Homo sapiens: one gene and its partner. The protein of the gene in region 2 interacts with the protein of the main gene of each other region in a biochemical or structural test. Each region holds a gene or a part of one and is shown on either strand. Other genes may lie near its edges.

What was found. Proteins that work in one complex are often made in the same cells at the same time.
Region 1: the proteins of PPARG (region 2) and ZNHIT3 form a complex in vitro, tested with the Homo sapiens proteins (one study listed by BioGRID).

The regions. Positions count from the first base shown.
Region 1 is NC_000017.11:36,485,150-36,488,899, forward strand, and holds the start of ZNHIT3 (zinc finger HIT domain-containing protein 3), read left to right. Parts: upstream 1-1,531; 5' UTR 1,532-1,550; coding exon 1,551-1,636; intron 1,637-1,785; coding exon 1,786-1,817; intron 1,818-3,750.
Region 2 is NC_000003.12:12,414,501-12,418,150, forward strand, and holds part of PPARG (peroxisome proliferator-activated receptor gamma), read left to right. Parts: intron 1-2,203; coding exon 2,204-2,654; intron 2,655-3,650. UniProt on the Homo sapiens protein: Nuclear receptor that binds peroxisome proliferators such as hypolipidemic drugs and fatty acids.

The DNA.
Region 1 (3,750 bases), on a different chromosome or scaffold from region 2:
AGAAGTTGGAGGCTGGGGCAGCTGCAAGCAGGACAGGCAGGTGGCCAGAGGGCCCAGCAGCTTCAGCACTGAGGACTGGACTGGGTCGCCACGCCCAAAGGAAGGATAATTACTCACCTCCCACTCAAGAAGCAGGCGGCAGAACTGTTTTGGAGAGCATGGCTTGGGGCCTGGGACCTATGTTCATGCGGTCCAGACGGAGATCCATGAGAGTTAAGACTCTTTCTAGATATCAGGTAGCACTTCTGATTACAAAACTTTTGCACATGGTCTCCTCTCTGCTTTACAACAGCTCAGGAAAGTAGGCCCAAACATCCACTTTAATAGATGAGGGAGCTCAGAGGGGGTAACCAACCCCTCCAGGTCACACAGCCAGGGAGGGGGTTGAGCCAAGGTTCAAACCACTGCCTCGGTTGTTGCAGATACATCCCTGCAGACACCTTTATTGAAGAGGGACCCTGAAGGCTGAACGGCCAACACAGAAGAGGAGGCACTTGGGAGTAAGGGTGATTTATGGCCCTGGGAGGGCCCAGTGCAGGTAGGATGGGAGCTAAGGTAAGGCTGGGCCATGCCTAGCTGCAAGCAAATTTCCTTAAAAAACAAACAACAAAAAACATTACTTTTTCTAAACCTAAAGTTTGTGGTGGCATTCAAGTCCCATCATAGCCCATCTATCCAGACTCATCTGCCTGGGATCCCCGTCTTGGGACTAGTGGTCACTGGCCTGCTTCCTGGTCAATTAGCTTCCGGGACTAGGGGGAGGTGTGAGGAGCCTAGAGTGCAAAATTTAAGAAGCACTCAGTCTCAGGGGCGTGCAGGTGCAGGGTAGCGACGGCAGGACTCTAAGAGTGAGTCTCTTTCCTCCCCGTTTCCCCGTCCTACTTTCACTCTAAGCATTTAGTTCCCAGGGGACAGAGACGACTTCTTCATTAGAAGACCCCGGGGGGTCCCCAGCCCGGAAGGGCTCACAGTTGGAGCTCAAACATTTGCCACTGTTCAGGCTCATCTTTCTTTCCCCAGTGAAAAATGGTCTAGGTTGGGAAGGGCAGGTTCCTGTCTACTGCGTGATCCAACCGATTCTGGTTCGCCCAATGTCTGGACTTGTCCTTTGCCAAGAATAAGCAGATGAGATGGGCGGATGAACCCCAATGTCCCTGCAAGATTCAGGAAGTCCCAGCCAGAAAGTAAAGGACGTTTAGTTCCATGTATTGTTTTCTTTTTTACATGCGGGGCAACACACCTGGACAGTGTCGATGGCTTGCTCCAAGCCACACGGCCGCATAGGGACAGGGACTGGGCTACATAACAAGTTCTTCGACGCTGTGATCTAATCAAGGAAAACCTGGGACGCAGCTAATAGATGCGCATCGAGTGTATCGACGCTCTAAGTACGAGGGCTGGAACAGTGAGCAGGATCAGTCCATTGCTTTTGCCTACCTGCTGAGCGCTGATTGGTCCCCGTTTAGGAAACGGAAAAAGGGGCGTGCACGCGGGCGCGGCTGCGTGAGAGGCGCGCGGCGGCGCAGTGAACAGTCTCCTTCCACAAAACCATGGCGTCGCTCAAATGTAGCACCGTCGTCTGCGTGATCTGCTTGGAGAAGCCCAAATACCGCTGTCCAGCCTGCCGCGTGCCCTAGTGAGCGGGGAGGTCGCGGGGTCCAGGGGCGCGGGTGTCCGGCCATGGCGGGAGGGCGGGAGGCCGGGAGGCCGGGCGGGAGCGGGCGGGCTGCTGGAGGGGCCGGGGACCCTCGGGGCTGACGCGGCCTGTGGCCTCTGTTGTTACAGCTGCTCGGTAGTCTGCTTCCGGAAGCACAAAGGTGAGCCCCGTCCCCGCCAGCCCTCGTACCACTGCGCACGGGGCAGCCCCCACGTCCAGCCTCCGTCTTGGGGGCGTGGACCCTTGGGCTGCGCTTCCTTTCCCGCCTCGGGTCTCCGCGGGTTCTGCAGGAACCTTGCTTCCTCTGACTTGGTCCCTGGTGTCTCTGTGTGTCGGACAGTTCCCTCTGTTGTCCCTGCCTGTAATCGCTCTCAGGGTTTTGGTCAGTAGCCTTTCTTCTACCCCGCTTCTCCTTCTGCGTGTTACTCTTTTTTGCTTAGAAATAGTTTCCGATTGCTTTTCCCACCGAGGTCTACCCTAGCAGTTTCTTCCTCAGTATTCTGATGTAGCCCCTCACCATTTGGCTGAAACTGCGCTAACTTTAACAGTATTTTCACTCGTGTAAATAATGTCTTGTTAGAAACAAAGAGGTAAGTCCATGTACAATACAAGGAGACGTCCTTGATTTGTTAAGAGAAAAAAAGAACCAAGTAAGTTCTGTGTATGATGTGAACACACTTTTGTACAGTTAAAAAGAAGTGACCTGGCCGGGCGCGGTGGCTCACGCCTGTGGTCCCGGCACTTTGAGAGGCCAAGGCGGGTGGATCACCTGAGCCCAGGAGTTCGAGACCAGCCTGGCCAACATGGTGAAACTCCGTCTCTACTAAAAATACAAAAATTAGGCGGGCGAGGTGCGCGCCTGTAATCCCAGCTACTCAGGAGGCTGAGGCAGGAGAATCGCTTGAACCCGGGAGGCGGAGGTTGTAGTGAGCCGAAATCGCACCACTGCACTCCAGCCTGGGCTACAGAGCCAGACTCAGTCTGGAAAAAAAAAGAAAAAAAAAAGTTTGATGTAGGTGGGGCGCGGTGGGTCACGCCTGTAATCCCAGCACTTTGGGAGGCCGAGGCGGGCGGATCATTTGAGCTCAGGAGTTTGAGACCAGCCTGGGCAACATAGCGAAACCCCGTCTCTATAAACAAACAAAGCCAGGCGTGGTGGCCTGTGCCAGTGGTCCCAGCTACTCAGGAAGCAGAGGTGGGAAGATCGCTTGAGCCTGGGAGGAGGAGGTTGCAGTGAGCCAGGATCGTACCACTGCACTCCAGCCTGGGAGACAGCAAGACTGTCTCAAAAAAAAAAAAAAAAAAAGCTTGATGTAGATTCTTTCAGCTTATTTCCACTCTTGTACCAATATATAGAACTTTTTTTTTTAGCTTTTAGAATCTCAGCAATGAGACTGTACCCAACATCCTCATTTGAGTTTATATATTGGGCACTTTTTAAAACCTAGTGCATACAGGCTGGGCGCAGTGGCTCATGCCTGTAATCCCAGCACTTTGGGATGCCAAGGTGGGTGGATCACCTGAGGTCAGGAGTTCGAGACCAGCCTGGCCAACATTATGAAACCACATCTCTACTAAAAATACAAAAATAAGCTGGGTGTGGAGGTGCGCGCCTGTAATCCCAGCTACTTAGGAGGCTGAGGCAGGATAATTGCTTGAACCATGGAGACGCAGGTTGCAGTGAGCCAAGACTGCACCACTGCACTCCAGCCTGGGCAACAGAGTGAGACTCCATCTAAAAAAAAATTAAAAAAATTAAAAATAAAGACTAGTGCATACAAGTTCTAGCTCACTGACTTAAAGGACTGTATGTTATTTCATTATATAGTTGGTACGACCATTATTTATATAAAGCCTCCTATTGGTTGATTTTTCTTTTTAATATTTGTTTTTAATTGACACATAATTGCATACAATTTGAGTTACAGTGTGATACTTCGATACCTGTATACAATGTTTAAGGATCAAATTAGGGTAATTAGCATATTCGCCCCAAATAATCATTTCTTCATGTTGGGAACACTCGCAATCCTCTCTTGTAGCTATTTGAAAGTATAAATTGCTGCCAACATGGTCACACTAAGGTACTGTGT
Region 2 (3,650 bases):
TTAATATAAATTATAATACACTGTAAAATGCCTGGAGGACAAGAAACACGTTTTCTCTAGGTTCTGTGAAAGCATCATTATCCATTCACATTTTTCTCATAATTAGAACCTGACGTTCTGGAAAAATACAGTAAATTTTCATCGATGTTACTTGCTCTGCCCCCCTTGTATTCCTCCCATTAATAATATTAATCCTGAAAAGAAAAAAAGAAAAAGGAAAGAAACCACCCAAGCAAAATGTTTAAGAAATACGGTAAGGACAGTTTGGTCCCAATTTCCTTAAAAATTAGAGCCACCAAGTAAACCTGTTTGGGGGTCCTCACATCTGTCCTCTTTTGGAGTTTGCTAAGTAGTACAGTTGAAGTGAATTTTTTGGTAACAAAAGTAAAAACTTCCAGAATAACTCCAGTAAAGGGTGTTGATGTGACGTACAAGTTTGGAAATATATTTAATATCTGAGACTCCTCAATGTTGGTGTTATTTCCTCCAGTTTAGAACAAACTTAATCTTTTGATGAAAATCATAGAGTTCCATAGATATGAATAGAATCTCCAACCAGTGCATCTTGAAGCCGGCTGCCACGGCCACTCATGCACCTTCTCTCCTTTCAGGAGAGAATTGTCAGCATCTCTGCTCAAAACAATCTTTACTTTTAGTCCATCAGAGACTTCATGTTTGTCGTGCATGCACACTCACACCTCTCCACACATATGCCCACTCCCCACACACATCCTGCTTCTGAGAAATGCAACTAGAATTTCCTCCGGAGAAGAGATGGAAACCCCTGATTGAGAAATTTAAGGCCTAGGAAAGGTAAATGACTTTTCTTAAGTCACATGGCTCACCACAGAACCAAAGCTGGAACACACATACCCTCAGCTCTTCTTCCAGTGCTTTCAGGTATACAAGTATTTGAACAGGATTCAAGGTTTAACTCCTTATGTGTCATTCAGTGTATCCAGTGTAAGTAAAATGTTACCCCTTAGTCAGAACAGCCTTGAGAATTTCTCAATGACTACAAACCTTGCTTAGTTCTATACAAGGGAAGTAAAAGAGAGAGAATGTCATGACCAAATGACTTAACTTTTGAAGGCAGCCTATTGCAAACTTGAATAATTGGGGCATGTATTTTATTGATTGTTTGACCTATAAGGACAGATATTTTAAAATATAAATTCAAAATTGCTTTTTTGCAGCATTCACCTGTAGGCCTTCTATATCTGCTCTTTGTGAAATAGATGGCTTCCAGAGCATTAAAAAAAGAAATAGACATTTTCTTGGTTCAAGAGCTGTAATCTGCTTTCCGAGTGATTTTTCATAGTTAAGCATATTTTATGTGCACATAGTTTCATTTGAGATCTGAGAGGATTTCATCTAAAACGGAAAAGTTATTACCTGTGAAGGAGAACAAAGGAAAAGGAAAAAGAAATTTTAAGAAAAAAAAATTTTTTTAAACCTGTAGTTACTTTATGTTCAAGTGGGTATTTTCAACGCTGAGTTGCTGAAATGGTTTTTTATTGAAAGAAGGTTAAAAGTGTATTTCATTGAAAGCCAAGATAAACAGTAGATTTTGTATCATTTTAAAAATCAACAATCGGCCGGGTGTGGTGGCTCATGCCTGTAATCCCAGCCCTTTGGGAGGCCAAGGCAGGCAGATCACTTGAGGCCAGGAGTTCAAGACCAGCCTGGCCAACATGGTGAAACCCCATCTCTACTAAAAATACAAAAATCAGCTGGGTGTGGCAGTGCATGCCAGTAATCCCAGCTACCCAGGAGGCTGAGGCACAAGAATTGCTTGAACCTGGGAGGTGGAGGTTGCAGTGAGCCCTGATTGTGCCACTGTAATTCAGTCTGGGCGCAGAGTGAGACTCTGTCTCAAAAACAAACAAACAAATAATATAAAAATCAACAATGAAGACTCCCCAAACAAAAGAAATCAGGATTCTTAGCCAGTCATAGGTAAAGTGTTACAGTGTAAATTGAAGGGAAAGAAGACCAAAATTGGTGAAATATGTTTGGTCCCAGAAGATAATTAAGATGAATAAAAGAACTTGAGAGTATTTTCTCATTATTAAGCATCTTCAGCTTTAAAGATTTTAGTTAGCAAAGCAAGTTTACATAAACAGTTTTCTGAACCTGGGATGGCATTCACTGTGAGTTAGAAATCTCCAAGTCATCCACGTTTTCCCTGTTTTATTTGCAGCCATTCGTTATCTATGACATGAATTCCTTAATGATGGGAGAAGATAAAATCAAGTTCAAACACATCACCCCCCTGCAGGAGCAGAGCAAAGAGGTGGCCATCCGCATCTTTCAGGGCTGCCAGTTTCGCTCCGTGGAGGCTGTGCAGGAGATCACAGAGTATGCCAAAAGCATTCCTGGTTTTGTAAATCTTGACTTGAACGACCAAGTAACTCTCCTCAAATATGGAGTCCACGAGATCATTTACACAATGCTGGCCTCCTTGATGAATAAAGATGGGGTTCTCATATCCGAGGGCCAAGGCTTCATGACAAGGGAGTTTCTAAAGAGCCTGCGAAAGCCTTTTGGTGACTTTATGGAGCCCAAGTTTGAGTTTGCTGTGAAGTTCAATGCACTGGAATTAGATGACAGCGACTTGGCAATATTTATTGCTGTCATTATTCTCAGTGGAGGTAAGATTTGTCTTTTGATCTTCTATGAAAGAGGGTGGGATGATGGTGGGGTGGCCAAAAGAATTTTGGATTTCCTTAGTGTTAGTCTGCATTGTCACTTTAAGTGCCAGTGGCATGATGCCATGAATCATCACTACACGTGCAAAACACTGTACCAAGAAAGAGTGTCATAGGTTTGCGGTGTGAAGGTTATAAGTAACCCAGGATCTTCTCTTTCATCCCTCAACAATATATTTTTTCCAGTCAAATGCCCTCTTCTCCTTTTTCTTTTTCTTTTCTTTTCTTTGTCTCTTTCTTTTCCTTCCAGAAAGGAAGATTAGAGGCCAGTCTAATCTTTGGTTCCTGTAAGTAATGGCATGTATAACTTTGCTTAAGACAATGCTCACTTGATGTAGAGAAGGGACCACTAAGTATTTCTGGTCAAATCATGCTCCTGCCCCACCATCAGTAAGATACTACTTTGAATTGCTTTTGTGATATCAGGAATTAAGGAATACCTACTGACCTCCACCCACTCTCTTGTGTGGATTCCTCTGATGGCTTCCCTTAAAGTACCTTTGTGAGGTAGTTGGTTGTGATTAAGAATGCAATGTGAACCGAACACACAACATAGAAATAAATTTAGTTATTTAGCAATTTGTTGTATTTTTGGCCCTGCAAGTAGTACATGATCTGACTAACCAATTCCAAAAGCCAGATTTTCTTCTGAGTGTGACTTTTTTCTTTTTTTTTTCTTTTTTTTTTTTCCTTTTTTTTTTTTTTTTTTTTTTTGTGAGACAGGGCCTCACTCTGTCACCCAGACTGAAGTGCAGTTGCACAGTCATAGCTCACTGCAGCTTCTAACTGCAGTTAGTAAGCTATGATCATGCTACTTCATAAAAGTAATACGTGGCCATTTTACAGTTGGGCTCAAGTGATTCTCCCACCTCAGCCTCCCAAGTAGACAGGACAACAGCTGCACACCAACATGCCCTGCTAATTTTAAAAATTTTTTTG